Linked DNA regions of Homo sapiens: region 1 is linked to region 2. The links come from fine-mapping of genetic effects on plasma protein levels. A gene starts in region 2. The other region holds a variant in brackets. All regions are shown on one strand. Distances are from middle to middle.

Region 1 (10,338 bases), 79 kb before region 2:
ACCTCTGTTTTCTTTTCTTTTTTTGAGGCGGAGTTTCTCTCTTGTCACCCAGGCTGGAGAGCAGTGGTGCTATCTCGGCTCACCACAACCTCCGCCTCTCAGGTTCAAGCGATTCTCCTGCTTCAGCCTCCCGAGTAGCTGGGATTACAGGCATACGCCACCACACCCGGCTAATTTTGTATTGTTTTTAGTAGAGACAGGGTTTCTTCATGTTGGTCAGGCTGGTTTCAAACTCCTGACTTCAGGTGATCCGCCCGCCTCGGCCCCCCAAAGTGCTGGGATTACAGGCGTGAGCCACCTTGCCCAGCCTATCTCTATTTTCTAATCTGTAAAACGGGGATCATAATAGCACCTCCTTCAGGGACATGTGATGGTTTCATGAGATATGATATGTAAGTCGCTCAGCACAGTGCCTGGCATACAGTAAGCACCCAATAAATGGTGCCTGCTGTTATGGACATTTATGGAAATAAGATCCTGGAAAGCAGATTGGAAGGGCATGTACTAAACAGACAAGGGGATGTCGTGGCTCAAAGCAGCAGGAGTAGGACTGGGATGCAGGGAAGGGGAGAGTCCATTGAAAGGGGAAGCTTTAGGCTGGGTGTGGTGGCTCAAGCCTGTAATCCCAGCACTTTGGGCAGCCAAGGTGGGCGGATCACCTGAGGTTGGGAGTTCCAGACCAGCCTGACCATCATGGAGACACCCCATCTCTACTAAAAATACAAAATTAGCCGGACATGGTGGCGCATGCCTGTAATCCCAGCTACTCGGGAGGCTGAGGCAGGAGAATTGCTTGAACCCGGGAGGCGGAGGTTGCGGTGAGCCAAGATCGTGCCATGGGACTCCAACCTGGGCAACAGGAACGAAACTCCATCTCAAACAAACAAACAAACAAACAAAAAAGAAAAGAAAAGGGAAGCTTTTCAGGGCCCTATGGCTGCATGGAGTGCCCCAAACTAAGGCGCATGTCTGCTTGATTCTATGCACCCTGTGTTGAAAAAACAGAAAAGACATTGTCAGAATGGGCCCAACCTCAGGGGACAGCATCACATAGGGCAGGGTAAAGCATGGCCCTGCAGGATTCATGGGATCATACATTGTCTTCATTCAGTCACTCAAGAAATATTTGCTGAGTACCTACTCTGTGCCGGGCCCTGCTCTGGGCTTGGGGAAGGTGAACTCAGAGAAAACACACAGAGCCTCTGCTCCCTAGCTCAGTCCAGTTGGGGGAAGGGGCAGCAGACTGATGGTAAACAAATAGGTACATTCACGCCTCTCCAGGGGTAGTGGGGAGAGGGGACCCCGAGGAGGCCAGCGTGTTGAAGCCGCAGCAAGCAAGTGGGTGGGCAGGGCCCTGGTTCCTCCAGGGGGGTGCGGCTGCCCTGTTTTTAGCCACAGATGCTCTTCCATTCCAGCCTGGTGCCCAGAGTCGGTTTCACTTTCCTCTTACCCGTTTTCTTAGAGTTTGGTTTCTGTTTTGTGGGTTCCCTGCCCCCCTTCCGCCTTTGTCTGGAGTTGCAGATTAGCCTAGTGGTTCTCAACCCTGGCTACATCTTAGAACCCTGGGGAGCTTTTTTTTCTTTTTTTCTTTTTTTTTTTTTTGAGACAGGGTCTCATTCTGTCTCCCAGACTGGAGTGAAGTGGCGCGATCTTGGCTCACTGCAACCTCTGCCTCCCAGGTTCAAGTGATTCTCCTTTCTGCCTCAGTCTCCCCAGTAGCTGGGGAGGCTACTCGCCACCACGCCTGGCAATTTTTTGTATTTTTAGTAGAGACAAGTTCTCACCATGTTGACCAGGCTGGTCTCAAACTCCTGACCTTAAGTGATCCACCCGCCTCGGCCTCCCAAAGTGCTGGGATTACAGGCCTGAGCCACTGTGCCCGGCCGACCCTGGGGAACTTTAAAATACCCATATCTGGGCCTGTCTTCAGTTAGATCAGAAGCCCTGAAGATGAGCCTTCCCAAACTCTGGTCTCGTCTTCTTAACTCGGTGAGAACAACGGTTGCCCTCCCAGTGCAGTGGTAGGAAAATCACCTATGCAATGTCAGGGCTCCTCCCCTTTATCTTCCGTTTTTCAGGGATCACAGCCCTGAGCTGCCCTTTGTCTAATATCTGAAAACACTTGTTTCCTGTGCTTTGTCCAGTTTCTTAGCTGTTTGTAGAAAAAGGGCAATTTCAGTTCACCTTACTTCCTCAAGGCCAGAACCTAGAGTCCCTCCTCATCCTTTGAACTCCCCAAGTCCTTCACCTGTCCCCTCTCCAAGTTTCTTCCCATGCTCTGGCTGGGATAACTGTGCTTGCAGGTTTCACCTCCACTTCTGGAAAGCGCCCCTCTTGGGGACACAGGGCCTGTCGGATTCACGTCTGTGTCTCCAGGATGTCTCACAGGGCCTGGCACGTGGTAGGTACGTGGTGGGCATGTTTTTGTGCATGGGTCTGCCCTGCCCTTCTTCCTTCAGGCCACCCCAAATCATATCCGTATCCCTAGAGAACTGACGCCCACCCCACTCCAACCAGGTGGCACCTCCAGGACCGCTGGTCAAGATACCCTCCCCACAGCCATTGGTCAGGGGTGGCCGTGAGACTCAAGACAGCACATGTGGCCGGGTGCAATCGCTCACGCCTGTAATCCCAGGACTTTGGAACGCTGAGGCAGGCAGATCACCTGGGATCAGGAGTTCAAGACAAGCCTGGCCAACATGGCAAAACCCCATCTCTACTAAAAATACAAAAATTAGCTGGATGTGGTGGTGGGTGCCTGTAATCCCAGCTACTCAGGAGGCTGAGGCTGCAGAATTGCGAGAACCTGGGCAGTGGAGGTTGTAGTGAGCCGAGATCGCACCACTGCACTCCAGCCTGGGCGATAGAGCAAGACTCCGTTTTTTAAATAAATTACCCAGTTCCAGGTTTTCTGTTATAAGCAACAGAGAATGGGTGAAGACATTTATTTTTATCTTTAATAATGTATTTAGGCCAATTGTATGCTAGAGAGACCTGACTACTACAAGACATCATTGTATGCTTGCCGAATAAATGAAATACCATTGATTAATTTGCAAACCACATTCCCAGTGCACCTGAGGTGGCTTCCAACAAGAACAAGGAAGGTAAAATTTAAAAAACAGAAATGGAGATTCAAGAATGTGGATGGGTGCAGTGGTATACACCCGTGCTACCAGTGGTGCACTCCCAGCTACTCTGGAGGCCCGAGGAGGGAGGATCACTTGAGACCAGGAATGTGAGTCCAGACTGGGCAACATAGCAAGATCTTATCTCTAAAAACAAAAAATTTTAGGCCGGGTGTGGTGGCTCATGCCTGTAATCCCAGCACTTTGGGAGGCTGAGGAGGGCGGATCACGAGGTCAAGAGATCGAGACCATCCTGACCAACATGGTGAAACCCTGTCTCTACTAAAAATACAAAAATTAGCTGGGTGTGGTGGTGCACGCCTGCAGCCCCAGGTACTCGGGAGGCTGAGGCAGCAGAATCTCTTGAACTCGGGAGATGGAGGTTGTAGTGAGCCAAGATCGTGCCACTGCACTCCAGCCTGGTGACAAAGCGAAACTCTATCTGAAAAAAAAAAAAAAAAAAAAAATTTAGGCCACATGGGATGGCTCACACCATAATCCCAGCACTTTGGGAGGCCAAGGCAGGAGGATCACTTGAGGCCAGGAGTTTGATACCAGCCTAGGCAACATAGTGAGACCCTGTCTCTAAAAAAATTATTAAAAAATTTTTTAAATAAAATAATAAAATATAATTAAAAGAGAAAATAAAGATCAGAAACAATAGCATACATATATAAATATGCAACCCATAAAGGCCTGTAAAAGTGCTTTATTAATTCAATATCAAATTTAGTTCTGAGCTTTCTGGCAGCCAAAGCAAAAAACTTTTTTTTTTTTTTCCGGAGAAAACTTCTTCAGTGGAAAGAAATTTTTTCCTAGACTTTAGCTGCAAAAGAACAGTTTCAGATGGGGCCTGCGGTGTGATGTGGTGAAGGCCAATCTCAGCCGCATTCGCACAGCCAAAGCCTGTAATAAGCCTCCCACAATGAGTCCTTGGAGAATGGGTCCAGGCGATTCAGTTGTTCTCATTTGGGCTCGCCTTGACCTCTCAGTGGCTCTTGTCATAGTTGGTCGCTTGCCTCCTCTTTGAAACACTTTCTTCACTTGGATGGGGGCCCTCACTCTCTTGGCAATCTTTTTTTTTTTTTGAGACGGAGTCTCGCACTCTCACCCAGGCTGGAGTGCAGTGGCGCCATCTCGGCTCACTACAAGCTCCGCCTCCCGGGTCCACACCATTCTCCTGCCTCAGCCTCCCGAGTAGCTGGGACTACAGGCGCCCGCCACCACGCATGGCTAATTTTTTTTATTTTTACTAGAGACGGGGTTTCACCGTATGAGCCAGGATGGTCTCGATCTTCTGACCTTGTGATCCGCCGCCTCATCCTCCTAAAGTGCTGGGATTACAGGCGTGAGCCACCGCGCCCGGCCTCTCTTGGCAATCTTCTTCCCCACCGTGGGCTGTGGTCTTGTCTCCATGGCCACATCTCCCTGACCTCTCTTGACCTCTGAATGGTGGTGGGCCCAGGCTCAGACCTCTCCCCTGCCCTCCCTTCCCCTCCCTTCCCCTCCCCTCCCACTTCCTGGATGACAGGCCACTGTTTCCACCCCAGGCCCTCCAGTCTAATTTCTACTCACAGCCAGAGGGAGTGCAGCCATTACATCTTATGCTGCCATTTCCTCATCGTCCTGTGATCACCTAAAGTTACTAAACAAATCTCTATTAAAGTGCCCAGTTTTGTGTAGTGGCCAAATCCCAGAACTTGATTTAGAATGAAGTATTCTTGGGCTGGGCGTGGTAGTACGCACCTGTAGTCCCAGCTGGTCGTGAGGCTGAGGCTGCAGGGATCGCTTGAGTTTGAGGCTGCAGGGACCCAAGATAGCACCACTGCACTCAAGCCTGGGCAACAGAGCGAGAGCTTGTCTC[AAAAC/A]AAACAAACAAACAAACAAACAAACAAAAAAAACGAACACAGCTTTTTCCACTTCTGGCCATTGCAGCCCCCACTGATAAGGAGTCAGGGAAGTCGGGTCTGCGCCTCTCCCTGGCCCCATTCCCAGGCTTGAGAAGACGCTGCCTTTGGAGAACAGGGAGGGAGGGCAGTGGGTGCAGAGAGTGCATCCTGGATTGACACTGGTGTAAGATGGCATCTCACTCCTTGGGTGGCAGCTGTCTAAAGCTGGCTCCTGCCCTCAGGGGTTTTATGGGCTCCCTTATGTACTACCCCCTTGACTGAAACTCCTGGCAAAGGGGCAGCCCCTCTCTGTTGACTGGCTCTGGTTTTCTTTCAAGTGGCATGCACTACCCCACTCTGTTGCATACCCTGTGCCAGAGAAAACAAGCCCGTGGGGCCAGACCCCTTTTTCCATTCCTGCGGTCCAGTGCCCACTGCAGGTCACCTCCTTTCTGGAGGCCTTTCCTACCAATGACCCACGGGGGTGCCATGACTGCAGGAAGCCCACCTCAAGCGCTCTGGGGGGCTTCCTTGAAGCACTTCTCACCAGATTTGAGGTTAGAAGGCAGCTCCCCAGCTCCACCCCCTGCAGACTCACTGCCATAGCAGCTCTTTCCAAATCAAATCACCGCAAACTGCCCCTTTCAAATCCACCCTCGATCCCTTTATACTCTTGCGGTGGATGAGGGGCTTCGACAGTGGCAACATGGGTTTCTGCTTTCTTTAAAATTTTGCAGTTTGGCCAGGAGCAAGCACTTCACTTTGGCATTTCATATCCATTCCATTCTAGAGCCTCAGTCAAATATTCTTGCACGCTGTTCATCCTTAGGACAAACCCAGAATCCTTTCCCTGGCTCCCAGGCCCCACGTGATCTGACTCTTGAGCACCCCCCCATGGAGGTTTATTTATTTATTTTTTTGAGGCGGAGTCTCACTCTGTCGCCCAGGCTGGAATACAATGACGCGATCTCAGCTTGCTGCAACCTCTGCCTCCCGGGTTCAAGTGATTCTTGAGCCTCAGCCTTCCGAGTAGCTGGGACTACAGGTGTGTGCCACCATACTTGGCTAATTGTTTTGTATTTTTTTAGTAGAGACGGGGTTTCACCATGTTGGCCAGGCTGATCTCAAACCTCTGACCTCAAGCGATCTGCCCAACTCGGCATCCTAAAGTGCTAGGATTACAGGTGTGAGCCACCGTGCCCAGCCCCCCATGGAGGTTTAAAATATCAAAATACCAACCTGGGCACAGTGGCACACACCTGTAGTCCCAGCTACTCAATAGGATCGTTCTAGCCCAGGAATTTGAGTCCAGTCTGAGCAACATAGCAAAACCCCATTTCCAAATAACATAAAATATCAAAATACCAAAAAACATTACAAATAATTGTATGTTGGTAAATATAGAAACTTAAGCAAAGTAAATACCTTTCTGGAAGAATGTGAAATGTCAAAATTGGCACAAAAATATCAAAACTTCAGTAGACCCATAACCAGGAAAGAAAATTGAGTAGCTCATGCCTGTGACCTCAGCACTTTGTTTTATTTTGTTTTTGAGATGGAGTCTCACTCTTATTGCCCAGGCTGGAGTGTGGTGGCGCAATCTCGGCTCACTGCAACCCCTGCCTCCCATTTTCAAGCGATTCTCCTGCCTCAGCCTTCCGAGTAGCTGGGATTAAAGGCGCCAGCCACCACGCCCAGCTAATTTTTTTGTATTTTTAGTAGAGACAGAGTTTCACCACGTTGGCCAGGCTGGTCTCGAACTCCTGACCTCAGGTGATCCACCTGGCTAAGCCTTCCGAAGTGCTGGGATTACAGGTGTGAGCCACTGCACCCGTCCTAACCTCAGCACTTTGGGAGGCTAAGGCAGAAGGATCATTTGAGGCGAGGAATATAAAATCAGCCTGGGAAACATAGCGAGACCCTGTCTCTTGGGAAAACAACAACAACAACAACACTACAATAGGCCGGGCACAGTGGCTCACGCCTATAATCTTAGTACTTTGGGAGGCTAAGGCAGGCAGATCACCTGAGGTTGGGAGTTCGAGACCAGCCTGGCCAACATGGTGAAACTCTGTCTCTACTAAAAATACAAAAATTACCCGGATGTGGTGGCACATGCCTGTAATCCCAGCTACTTGGGAGGCTGAGGCACGAGAATCACTTGAACCTGGGAGGTGGAGGTTGCAGTGAGCCGAGATCACTCTACTGCACTCCAGCCTGGGCGACAGAGCAAGACTCCATCTCAAAAAAAAAAAAAAAAAAAAAACTAAAAGAAAAAGAAACTTGTAATCTGAGACTCCAATGTGAAAAAACCCAATAGAAATGTTTTTATAGGGCAGTTCTACCAGCCTTTGGAGGAACAGATGGTCCTTATCTCACACCAGTTGTTACAGAAGCCAGAAAGAGAGAAGGCTGCCCAATTTCTTGTATGACCCCCGCAAGCCAGATAAAGACAGTATCAGAAAAGTCTGTACACAGAGCATTTCGTTATGGACACAGATGTTAAGCGTAAACTAATAGAATAGAATATAGGAAAATACCCCACCTAGGGATAGGAAAAGAAAGACTCTCAAAATACAAAGCTCTATTCAAAAACATTTATGAGTCTAACTCCATCAAAATTAAAGATTTTTTTTTTACCAGACTTAAAAAAAGATTAAGGATTTCTGGCCAGGCACGGTGGCTCACACCTGTAATCCCAGCACTTTGGGAGGCCAAGGTGGGTGAATCACTTGAGGTCAGGAGTTCGAGGGCAGCCTGGCCAACATGGTGAAACCCCATCTTTACAAAAATTAGCCAGTCGTGGTGGCACATACCTGTAATCCCAGCTACTCGGGAGGCTGAGGCAGGATAATTGTTTTGAACGTGGGTGGTGGAGGTTGCAGTGAGCTGAGATTGCACAACTGCACTCCAGTCTGGGTAACAGAGCGAGAGAGCGAGAATCCGTCTCGAAAAAAAAAAAAAAGTACCAGACCTCATTTTATGACCCCAGGGTTAGTCAAAATTCATAAGGTGAATAATGTCAATGTTTGGTGAGAATGTGGGCAGACAGAAATCCTTGGTCTTCTGTAGGCACATAAACTGACAGCCCTTCTCTCAAGCAATCTGAAATTAGGTGTATGTTTATGCCAAGACCTTACACTCTCAGCCTTGGATAAGTAGGCCAGAGAGATTCTCATTCAGGTGTACAAAGAGGCATGTGCAGCGGTGTTGACCACGGTGTTCTTTGTGAGAACAGGACTTGGGAGCCAGTCTGGCATCCATTGTCAGAAGGATGAATTAAGTAAAGCATACAAAGGGAAACTACGGAACACTATGCAACAGTCAGGATCTACAAGGCTTTTAAAACACAGTGCGGGCCAGGCACAGTGGCTCACGCCTGTATTCCCAGCACTTTGGGAGGCCGAGACGGGCGGATCACCTGAGGTCAGCAGTTCAAGACCAGCCTGGCCAACATGGTGAAACCTGGTCTCTACTAAAAAATAAATACAAAAATTAGCTGGGTATGGTAACGCAAGTCTGTAATCCCAGCTACTTGGGAGGCTGAGGCAGGAGAATTGCTTGAGCCCGGGAGGTGGAGGTTGCAGCGAGCTAAGATTGCACCACTGCACTCCAGCCTGGGCAACAAAGCGAGACTCTGTCTCAAAAAAAAAAAAAATCAAAAAACAAAAAACAAAAACAAAAACCACAGTGTTAGCAGCGGAGGGTGGCATGTGCCCATAATCCCAGATACTTGGGATGCTGAGGCGGGAGGATCTCTTGACCCCAGGAGTTTGAGGCCAGCCTGGGCAATATGAGACCTTGTCTCTAAAAACAAAACGATGGGGCATGGTGATTCATGCCTATAATTCCAGCTTTTTTTTTTTTTTTTTGAGAAGGAGTCTCGCTCTGTTGCCCAGGCTGGAGTGCAGTGGCATGATCTTGGCTCACTACAAGCTCTGCCTCCCGGGTTCACGCCATTCTCTGGCCTGAGCCTCCCGAGTAGCTGGGACTACAGGCGCCCGCCACCATGCCCGGCTAATTTTTTGTATTTTTAGTAGAGACGGGGTTTCACCATGTTAGCTAAGATGGTCTCAATCTCCTGACCTCGTGATCCTCCCTCTTCGGCCTCCCAAAGTGCTGGGATTACAGGCGTGAGCCACCGCGCCCAGCCTAATTCCAGCTTTTATTTATTTATTTATTTATTTCTGAGATGGAGTCTTGTTCTGTCACCCAGGCTGGAGTGCAGTAGTGTGATCTCAGCTAGCTGCAACCTCTGCCTGGGTTCAAGTGATTCTCCTGCTTCAGCCTCCTGAGTTAGCTGGGACTACAGGTGTGTGCCACCATGCCCGACTAATTTTTGTATTTTTAGTAGAGACGGGATTTCACAGTGATGGCCAGGCTTGTCTTGAACTCCTGACCTCAAGTAATCCACCTGCCTCGGCCTCCCAAAGTGCTGGGATTACATGCATAAGCCACCTTGCCCAGCCTGATTCTAGCATTTTGAGTAGGCTTAAGCGGGAGGAGTCCTTGAGGCCAGGAGTTCAAGATTAGCCTAGGCAGCATAGTGAGACCTCTGTCTCTCCAAAACTAATTTTTTTTTAAAGTAGCCAGGCATGGTGGCACATGCCTGTAGTCCAAGCTACTCAGGACGTTGTGGTTGTGGTAGAGGATCACCTGAGCCCAGGAGTTCGAGGCTGCAGTGAGCTATAATCACACCACTGCACTCCAGCCTGGGTGACAGAGTGAGGCCTTATCTCTAGAAAATAAAATAAATTTTAAAAACCCTAAAGCACAGTTTTGAAGGAAACGAGTAAGGAACAAAAATGAGATCAATACTGCTTATGCAAATTAAATACATACAATACCATTTATTTATTTTTATACTTAGTTTTATTTTTTATGTTTTTCTTGAGACAGGGTTTCACTCTGTCACCCAGACTGGAGTGCAGTGGTGTGATCATAGCTCATTGCAGCCTCAACCTCCTGGGCGCAGGTGATCCTCCCGCCTCAGCCTCCCGAGTAGCTGGAACTACAGGGACACGCCACCATGCCCAGCTAATTTCTTTGTATATTTTTGTGGAGCTGGGGTTTCACCATGTTTCTCAGGCTGGTCTCCAACTCCTGAACTCCAGCAATCCACCTACCTTGACCTCCCAAAGTGCTGGGATTACAGGCGTGAGCCACTGCACCCGGACCACAATACCACTTACATAAACAAAAAATACATACACACAAAAATGATAAAAGCTTCACAATGATCCGTTAACATCTTTCTTTCTTTCTTTTTCTTTCTTTCTTTCTTTCTCTCTCTCTTTCTTTCTTTCTCTCTTTATTTATTT
Region 2 (10,338 bases):
ATAACAGGAAAACCAAAAATAAAGACCTGAGGCTGGAACGATTGAGTGAAAGGTCAGAAACTAAATTGTTATTTGTAGGGATGAGAGTTCTGTGCAAGGCTGGGACTGGAAAGTGCGAGTGGCCCAGCTTGAAAGGGACACCAGGTGACTGCAGCAGGGCCCAGCTTGTGCTTCAAGCCGCTTCCTGGGAGGCTGCTGGTCTGAGTCCCGGCTGAGGTGGTCACGAGGGCTCTCTCTTGAGTTTCAGACTGTTTCTGATGTCTTCCCGGCTAAGTCCCCTCAGCCTTGACCCTCATGCTATGATGCTGTCGCAGGCCTTGTGTGCTTAGGTGGGGGCTTTGCAGGGCTCCGGCCTCACCACACCTCAGTCCTGATGCTGCCAGCTTGTTGCTGGTGCTCTGTGAGGTCATGGAGACTCCTCCTCCATGAAGCCCTTCCCTGGGCTCCTGCCCACGCTGGCCTCCTGGTTTGGCCTCGCCTGGTGGCACTGGGACCCTGCTGGAAGCCTGCGGCTCATGCTGTCTGCTTTATTTCCTTGTTGTCTGCCTTTCCCGGCTCACCCACAGGCTTTGCCATAGAAGGGACTGGAACCTGCCTTCTCACCTCTCCCTTGGGGCACAGGCAGTGCATATACCAGGTGGCAGGCCACAAACCCTTTATCAGGACTCCATATTGCATCCCACACAAGTTCTTGGCTCTGTCCTGGGACAGCAGTAGACAAAGGGCATCTAGAATGTACCTTGTGACAGTGTGGCCTCTCAGATCCAGCCCGACTCAGCCAGCAGGACAAAGGGACCACGGCTTGGAATGCTGGCGCAGAAAGCAGACCTGGCTGGTGAGGGGTATGAGTCAGGTTGTCTCAGTGTCAGCCCGTGGTGTCCAAGAGGACATGCCTGGCCACCCACTAGCCTGGGACATAGGTGGGCCCAGAAATCAGCAAATACTGACCCCATCCCCCCATCACACCCAGCCAGAGCTTGACCCCCTCAGCTGGTCTAGTCATGAGTGCTCAGAGCCAGCCTAGAACTTCGTGTGAACCCAGCCCATGCACTCTGGGGTGCTGAAGGGCTCCTGCTGCCCCCAGAAAGGAAGTAGGGGGAGGCTACCTGGACCACCACAAGCCCTGCCCCCGGCAGCCTGCTGAGCATGGAAGGCTCCCAGCAGGTGCTTGTGACTGTTGATCCCTTTCCAGGCTGGCCCCTCCCTGTGGGGACCAGGGCTCTTTCCTGTCACTCCCAACCTTGACTGGTGGCAGCCTTGAAGAGCCAGCCAGGCCCGATTCTGGGGCTTTGCTCCCCATGCGATCTGGAGCAAGTTGCTTCACTCCCCTGAGCTACAGCCTCCTCTGCCAGCTGATAACAGGGTTGTGAAGATTCAACCAGTGAATCAGCAGCGCTTAGGAGCGCTCCTCCCCAGAGGGGAGCTTTAATCCCTGTTGGATTACAGGTTTCCTTGCTGAAAGATCTCCTTTCCAGGATATGGGGCTACAGAGCCCTGGGGGGAGGGCAATATCCTCTGCCCAACTGAAGGTTCAAGGAAGAGGGTTCTGGGGGAAGCATCGAAGCCTTGGAGAGCCTGATCCCAGAGGGAAGGAGATGTCAAGAACCTGCCCTGGTCATCTCCACCCATCAGGCCAGGGGCAAGAGAGGGGTGCTGTGGACAACCTGGGGTGGGATGTCTGGGCCACTGCAAAACTGGAGGCTCTGCCCTGTGGCCAGTACATTTGACCGACCTCAAGCTCACGCTTGGCGCAAACCTCCTGGAAGCCAGAGTGGTCCAGACGGGATGGAGTCAGGCCCTGGGAAAGTCTGCTCAGGGACACCCCATCTGCAAGAAACAACCCCTACACCATGCACAGCAGACCTCAAACCCCTGTGGAGCAGCCCAGGACTCATGCACCGGGACCCACCACTAACCTTTCCCCTTTGATCTCCCATTTCCTCCTTGTAGGAAGAGATAATAGTCATTGTCTGTGCAGAGCTGCTATGGGAATGAAAGAACATATATTGAATCCCTGGCGCAAGGCCTGGCACACAGCAAGAGTTCTTACCATTGTTAATCCTCCCCACCTTTTCTTACCAAGATACCACTTCTAGCTGTGTGACCTTAGACAAGTGTCCCGACCTCTCTGATTAACTTCTTCATCTGCAAAGTGAGGATAATGTGTACTCCCTCAGGGTGCTTGTGAGAATCAGTGGGTGAAAAGTGCTCAGAAATTGCTAGGTTGTACTGCAAAAAAAGTCCTTTGCATCAGCACAAAGCAGAGGCAGGTGGAGTGGGTGCCCTTGGTGAGTGGCAGACAGGCCTTGGCTAGTTTTTGAGAGAGCTGTTGGAGGTACCTGTGGCCATGGCTAAGCTCCAAGTGATGACACAGCAGGCCCAGGGGAGCTGCCTCTCCCACCTCGCCCCTGTGGCACGATCCTGGTACTCTTCCTCTACCCCTCCCAGGCTTTCAGCTCAGAGTCCTGGCCAGGCGTCATCCTCCTGATCAACTCAAGCTCGGCCAGCACTTCCACAAACTGGAGTCTGTCCCTTTAAGCCAGACACCTGAGGCCGCCAGGAACTTGTGACGGTTCCTTGGAATCCCAGGAAGATGGCAGAGTTGGTTTTCCACAGCTGGGCTGAGGAAGTGAGGTGGGTAGCAGGCTGGCAGCTGCCCTGGGCAGTGAGTGACCGCTGTGGTCTAGGTCTCTGTGTGGGAAATCACTTCCTTTTGTGGTCCTGGGATTCTAAGGCCCAGAATCAGGAAGGGAGGGTGACACGCTGGATGCCTACATACAATATCCATCACAGTGACAGTTGCCAGCTGCTCTTTACGTACTGTGACCTAGCACCTCTTCCAAGCCCCAGTGAAGCCCCTGGAGGCTCTAAGCACTGCAAGATCTTAGTGCCCCAGGGACAATAAGCCCCGCCCCCCAGCAACATGGAATTACAAATACAAACTACACTGAACTCTAAAATGCAGACAAATAATTCCAAGGCCTGCCTGTAATCCCAGCATTTTGGGAAGCTGAGGTGGGAGGATCTCGTGATCTCTTGAGGCCAGGCATTCGAGACCCACCTGGCACTACTGTGAGACCCCATCTCTACAAAAAAATATAAGAATTAGCCAGGTGTGGAAAAAAATTAACCAGGCATGGGGGCATGCGCCTGTGGTCCCAGCTACTTGGGAGGCTGAGATGGGAGGATAGCTTGAAGCCAGGAAGTCGAGTTATAGTGAGCTATGATAGCGCCACTGCACTCTAGCCTGGCTGACAGAGCGCTGTCACAAAAAAAAAAAAAAATTCAACAAAATCCAGACTTTTCTTGCGTTGACTACTTCAACACTGCTTTTCATCTGTTCCTTTTTTTTTTTGAGACAGAGTCTTGCTCTGTCACCCAGGTGGAGTGCAGTGGCACCATCACTGCTCACTGCAGCCTCGACCTCCCAGACTCTAGTAATCCTCCCACCTCAGCCTCCCGAGTAGCTGGGACCACAGGCGTGCACCACCATGCACAGCTAATTTATTTTAGATTTTTTGGTAGAGACGGCTCACTATGTTGCCCAGGCTGGTCTCAAACTCCTGGCCTCAAGTGATCCTCCTGCTTCCGACTCCCAAAGTCCTGGGATTACAGGTGTGAGCTACCGTGTGATTAATAGATCACCACCTATTAATAATAATCAATTAATTATTGGAGTCTTTTTTTTTTGAGATAGAGTCTTGCTCTGTCACCCAGGCTGGAGTGCAGTGGGTGCCGTCTCAGCTCACTGCAACCTCTGCCTCCCAGGTTCAAGTGATTCACCCACCTCAGCCTCCCAAGTAGCTGAGACTACAGGTGTGCACCACCACACCCAGCTAATTTTTGTATTTTTAGTAGAGATGGGGTGTTGGGAGCCGAAAGGGCCAAAGGGATTGTGACCAACTCAGCATTCCACTGAAGGCTATATGATCAAACAGCCACCTGTTTATCACGAATGCAGGATGTGGGCAAACTCCCACTGCCCTGCCACCAAAAGGTTTGCTGAGGGCCTTACTCCTTGGCACTGGGGTCCCTGAAGTTATCTACTGAGAAAATTAGCACCTATTGTTCAAAGGATGCAGTCTCACAAGCCTGCTGTGAACCAAAGTGCTGACCGACAATTACCTGACATACCCGACAATCACCCTCCCCCTTTCTCGCTATCTCTTTTGCCTACTACATACAGAGGGCTGTGTAAAGCTCAGGGCCCTTGTCCACTAGAGGCAAGGTGCCCCCTGACCCCTTCTTCCAAATATACTCTTTTGTCTCTTGTCTTTTATTCCCACGTTTGCCCGGCTTTGTTCAGTCCCCCTAGGTCCGTGCGGGCTATGATGGGGTTTCACCATGTTGGCCAGGCTGGTCTCGAACTCCTGGCCTCAAGTGATCTGCCCACCTCGGCCTCCCAAAGTGCTGGGATTACAGGCGTGAGCCACCACACCTGGCAATTATTGGAGTCTTTAAAAACACAGTCATGGGCCTTGTTTGCTGGTACCTCCAGCACATGCTCACTGTATCCACGGGACAGCCAGATTCGAAACATCAATATCAGAACAAACTTAGGAGATAAGGTGTCTTTCAGACGAGGGCACGGAGGCTCTGTGTGGGAGGTTGAGGGACTTGCCCAAAGCCATGCCGTCAGTAAGATGGCAGAGCTGACATGACTGACACCCCCTCCTTCTGGGCAGTTTGTGTCCTGTGGGCTCAGTCTGGTTTAAGACCACAGATTTGACTTAGACTGTCAGCACACACAAGCCAGTGTCACCATTTATTTCCTGCCGGTGTCTTTGGGCAAATCCATTTTCCCTTCTCTGTAAAGTGGAAACTATTTTTTTTCTTTTTTCTTTTTTTTTTTTGTGAGACAGAGTCTCTCTCTGTCACCCAGGCTAGAGCGCAGTGGTGCCATTTTGGCTCACTGCAACCTCTGCCTCCCAGGTTCAAGCAATTCCCCTGCCTCAGCCTTCTGAGTAGCTGGGAATTCAGGTGTGTGCCACCACGCCTGGCTAATTTTTGTATTTTTGGTAGAGACGGGGTTTCACCATGTTGGCCAGGCTGGTCTTGAACTCCTGACCTCAAGTGATCTGCCTGCCTCGGCCTCCCAAAGTGCTGGGATTACAAGTGTGAGCCCTCATGCCCGGCCTTCTTTTTTTTTTTTTTTTTTTTTTTTTTTTTTGAGTCAGCGTCTAGCTCTGTCGCCCAGGCTGGAATGCTGCAGTGGTGAGATCACGATTCACTGACTTGAACTCCTTGGCTCAAGTGGTCCTCCCACCTTGGCCTCTCAAAGTGCTGGAATTACAAGCATGCCTAGGTGCCTGGCCAGGTAGAAACATTAGTCACTCGCGCTCCAGGAAGGTTGTCAGGCAGCGCTGAGCAGTAATGTGTCCTACTCACCTGCTGTTTATCCAGCACCAGACCTCTTCTAAGAACTTTACCTGTTTCAGCTCACTGAATCCTCACAACACCCATTGTACAGAAGAGGAAACTGAGGCAGCGAGTGGTTAAGTGACTTCTCCGAGGTTACACAGCTAGGAAATGGTGGCAACAGTAAGAGCCCACGAAGAGCTGCGGTTGGTAGTTCATTCTGGACAGCCCTCCCGTGAACCGTCCCTGTACTGGCACTTGTTGCTGGGGACTGTCGCTGTCCTCTCCCTCCCCGGGCCAGGTGTGTCCTGGAGGGCAGGGAAGCGTCTTGGCACGCGGGTGCGCGCCGCCCCCTCGGCCTCCTGGGCTCCCTGAACCTCGCAGGACCCCGGCAACTTCGAGCCCCGCCCCAGCTCCAGGCCGCGGGGGCGCATCGCGGGCGTCGGGCGGGGCGGCCCAGCGGGTAAAAGCTGCGCGGCCGCAAGCTCGGCACTCACGGCTCTGAGGGCTCCGACGGCACTGACGGCCATGGCGCGTTCGAACCTCCCGCTGGCGCTGGGCCTGGCCCTGGTCGCATTCTGCCTCCTGGCGCTGCCACGCGACGCCCGGGCCCGGCCGCAGGAGCGCATGGTCGGAGAACTCCGGGACCTGTCGCCCGACGACCCGCAGGTGCAGAAGGCGGCGCAGGCGGCCGTGGCCAGCTACAACATGGGCAGCAACAGCATCTACTACTTCCGAGACACGCACATCATCAAGGCGCAGAGCCAGGTGCGGCGGGCGGGGTGCTGGGAGGGGACACCCGGCCCAGATGGGGGAGGCCACAGGCGCTGCCCCAGCGTGCATGAAGGGGGCCTAAAAGCGCAATCGGGATATTTTCATGCAATATTTTAAAAATCGAATTAATGCTAAAACTCCACGATGGACAACCATCTAAATTTCAAGGAAAGACATAATTAAACCCTGTATTGCACTACCTGCCTTCCTGGCTTGCCTGGTCCTAGTCTCTGCCCTGATGGGGTGGATCGGGGAGGAGGGAAGGCAGGTGGGGACAGTGGGCAGCTCCCTAGATGGGGCATGTCTGATGTCTGCCAAGGCTGCTGGTGGGGCTCAGCCTCCAGGCCTCTCCACCCTCCATCCCCACCAGAACTCCCCCCCCCACCCCCCCCCACCCCCCCCCACCCCGTCTGAATCATCCCCTCTCCCTCTCTCCCCACCTGAGTGCCTGGGGGCAACAGGAGAATATATCAAGAGGTGAGAAGTGAGGATCAAGGGTCAAGACCCCTGACCTGCCCCTACCCTATGCCCCCAGCTGGTGGCCGGCATCAAGTACTTCCTGACGATGGAGATGGGGAGCACAGACTGCCGCAAGACCAGGGTCACTGGAGACCACGTCGACCTCACCACTTGCCCCCTGGCAGCAGGGGCGCAGCAGGAGGTAACAGCTGGGCTCCTCCAGCCCCAGCCCTCCCCAGAGCCTCAGGCACTCAGGTTGTCCATCCTGAACTGGTTTGGCTGGACACGTAGATGTCTAGATGTCTGGCTGAACCTGTCGTCCTTCTGGATGAGTCAGCCTCTGGGCCAAGATGGGGTGCAGAAAGGAAGCTGGGGCTTCCCTCGGGAATGGGGAAGTTGGCTACCAAGATCTGGAGTCTAGCCCCAGACATGCGGCTTGACATCCGTTGGGTCAGTGATTGTCCCTCTCTTGGCCTGGAGCAGCCTGGCAGGCAGAGGGCTGGCTGTTGGGAGGAGACAGGTCGAGGCTGGGCTCACCCCTCCTTCTCCCCCATATTCCCTCCACAGAAGCTGCGCTGTGACTTTGAGGTCCTTGTGGTTCCCTGGCAGAACTCCTCTCAGCTCCTAAAGCACAACTGTGTGCAGATGTGATAAGTCCCCGAGGGCGAAGGCCATTGGGTTTGGGGCCATGGTGGAGGGCACTTCAGGTCCGTGGGCCGTATCTGTCACAATAAATGGCCAGTGCTGCTTCTTGCATTGGTTTCTTCCAAGTGCTTCGCTTCTGCCCCCATCCCCCACTCCCACTTCTGGCAGCTCCCAGCTCCCCAGCCCAAGCTGAGAGGTCACCCTGCCACCTGCAGCAGAGCTGCTGCTGTCCCAGCCCAGACAGTGCTGAAGGTGCAGGGCTGAGCCTCCAAATGTGGAGCCCCCAAACACCCCAGCATCACAGGCATAGAGGAACAAACCTTAGAGCCCCCACACACAGCCAGAGACTCCCAATATTCTCAGAGGTCAGGGGTGGCGGCAGACTCACAGAGGAGGGGCGATGGCCTGAGATAAGAACAGGGCCGGCTGCCTGGGAGCACTCTGAGGAGGAGTCTGTGCTGTGCTCCCACTCAGCCCCAGGAGGAGCTCATGGGTGGCATGGGGGGCTTCAATCAGGCAGTGTCCTCACCCAGGACACTGAGCTCCCAGCCTATAAAGATTCCTCCACCTGCATGTGGCCCAACGATGGCAGAGTCCCTGCAGGCCAAGAGACCATGAAGGCTAGGACAGTGCCTCTCAGTCCACACTGTGGGCTCCACGCCACAAGGACGCCTCTCTTGCCTTGCCCTGGGCAAGACGCCTGAAAGGGGCTAGACTAGGAGCCGCAGAGGGACAGAGATTGTCTAGCGCCCACAGGAGGGGTGAGGGGACAGATTCAATGTAATGTCATTTAAAGAAAACAGCATTGCAGCCGGCCTCACACCTGTAATCCCAGCACTTTGGTAGGCTGAGGTGGATGGATCACCTGAGGTCAGGGGTTCAAGACCAGCCTGGTGGCCGGGCGCGGTGACTCACGCCTGTAATCCCAGCACTTTGGGAGGCCGAGGCGGGCAGATCACGAGGTCAGCAGATCGAGACCATCCTGGGTAACACGGTGAAACCCCGTCTCTACTAAAAATACAAAAAATTAGCTGGGTGTAGTGGCGGGCGCCTGTAGTCCCAGCTACTCGGGAGGCTGAGGCAGGAGAATGGCGTGAACCCGGGAGGTGGAGCTTGCAGTGAGCCGAGATGGCGCCACTGCACTCCAGCCTGGGCGCCAGAGCCAGACTCCATCTCAAAAAAAAAAAAAAAAAAAAAAAAACCAGCCTGGCCAACATGGTGAAATCCCATCTCAACCAAGAATACAAAAATTATCTGGGTGTGGTGGCAGGTGCCTGTAATCTCAGCTACTCAGGAAGCTGAGGTAGGAGAATCGCTTGAATCCAGGAGGCAGAGGTTGCAGTGAGCCGAGATTGCGCCACTGCACTCCAGTCTGGGAGACAGAGCGAGACTCCATCTCAAAAAAATTAAAAATAAAAAAAGAAGAAGAAAACAGCATTGCAACATTTGCACATCTGAATTTGTGGCTGCAATTCATACCCCCCCATACATATACACACGCACACACCCAAAGCACAACACACCAGACATACACACACAGACACCCAGAGCACACACTCAGATGCTGGCAGATATCACATGCATACCCAGAGAAACACAGCCTAGCAACTCATGAGCACAGAAGCAACACACCCTAGAGAAACAACCTGGAGATGTACACACAAAACTCAAACACAACCCAAGGACCCACATGCCACACCCAGAGGTTCCTCAGATGCACAAGCACACACCCACACTTGGGATATGGGCCTTGGGGGTGCTAGGTATAGGCACCATCAGGCCCAGGCAGGCAGCACTGCAGTGGCTGCGGAGAGCATCCCACGGTCCTTCCTTTCTGACAAGGCCTCACACCCTGCTTGTGCCTGCCTGGTCCCCTGCCCAAGGCTGGGGCCTAATAAGCAGCAGCCCCAGCTCCCAGGCCCTGCTGTCGGCCTTTGGAGGCCAGATTGGGGTAGAGACGGGGAAACGGGAAGTAGACCCTGGGTCCCACCTGGGAGTGAGAAGCTGAGGGGTGGCATTTGACAGGAGCTGGGGACCCAGGAGACAACATCCAGCCCTGCTTCTGCTCAAGCTTGTCAGATGTGGCAGCTCAGACAGCCCAGGGTGTGTGCGGGGCCTGCTGCTTGGAAGGGCTCCCATGTGCCACCAAGCAGGGACTCCCAGCATGGGGCAGGCACAGGGTGGGTGGCAGGAAATGCCTGTTGAATGAATGTGTGAGGTGGTGGAGAGAAGCAAGGCCCAGAGACGCCTGCCCGGTGACCTCTCCGCCCCTGGAATCTGTGCCCAAATCCCAGATGGCATTTCCTCCGCATAGTCTATTCCTGGGCCCTGGGCCCTGGGCCAGCCAGTGCCTTCCGCCAGACCAGGGAGGGGAGGTGCTTCTTCTGTCCTGGGACCCTGGAAGCTCCAGCACTGACTGGTCTGGTCCAGAGATGGGAGGGTTGGCAAAAAACTATTGCCCTTCAGCTCCCGCTCCTGACTCCCTCCGGCCTGAACTGCACCCTGGATTCGCCTCTACTAGAGGTGAGATGGCTGTTGTAGATAATGGAAAACCCTCCACTTAAGGAGAGACCCCTGGGGCCAGGGCGAGGCTTGAACTTGACTCAGTGCTAGGTCTCCAGCACCCAGCATAGGCCAGTGTCCCACTGTCACCCCCAGCCATGGGGACAGGGGCTCTGGACATCCAGCCTAGGCTCAGGCTATCAGTCGGGGAGGTCATCTAAGTCCTAGAGCAGGCAATGGGGCGCAGCCTTCAGCCTCATTCCCTGCTTCCCTCTCCCAGCAGCAGGGTCCTCCACACATCCCTGCCCGCCCCTTGCCCTGAGGCCAGAAGGACTTGAGCAGCCCCGACTCCACCTCCCCTCAGTGGGGCTCTAGAGTCTGACCCCAGAAAGGGCAGGATATGGCAATGACCTCCGACCTCTGGGTTCATGATATCCCCATCCGGTTGGTGCTCTTCTACTGGAGCTGAGGGTCCTGGTAGGATTGAGTTCCTGGGCTCTGAGTCCCCATTCCTAGAGCCTATTGGGCCCCCAGGCCCTGGTAACCCTGGGGTGTTCAGGCCTATTCTTTTTCTCCTGACTCTTGGGCCAGATGGGCCTT

Alleles and levels. Alleles are on the strand shown, and positions count from the first base shown. The strength of an association depends on the size of the effect and on how common the allele is.
With allele A in place of AAAAC in region 1, the plasma level of the protein whose gene starts at base 5,850 in region 2 is higher (moderate association).

What was found. PIP is the posterior inclusion probability: the model's chance that the variant is causal. Protein levels are from antibody-based Olink assays in UK Biobank. Linkage for the fine-mapping came from a reference panel and not from the study's own genotypes, which makes the PIPs less certain.
Region 1: its variant is fine-mapped to the plasma level of the CST6 protein (UK Biobank, PIP 0.96).

What each region holds. Positions count from the first base shown.
Region 1 is chr11:65,926,803-65,937,140 of GRCh38, forward strand. No RefSeq gene overlaps it. Among named protein-coding and RNA genes, the nearest start is that of DRAP1, 13 kb to the left of the region's middle. RefSeq lists a cis regulatory region at 1,070-1,635 and enhancers at 1,172-1,601, 1,316-1,610. The variant AAAAC/A (reference allele first, on the strand shown) is at 4,993.
Region 2 is chr11:66,006,159-66,016,496 of GRCh38, forward strand. It overlaps CST6 (cystatin E/M), which reads left to right and starts at 5,850. Exons shown (of 3, transcript NM_001323.4): 1 at 5,850-6,126; 2 at 6,668-6,793; 3 at 7,159-7,347. The coding sequence starts at 5,887. The coding sequence ends at 7,242. RefSeq lists a silencer at 1,200-1,494 and enhancers at 2,152-2,946, 7,332-7,907.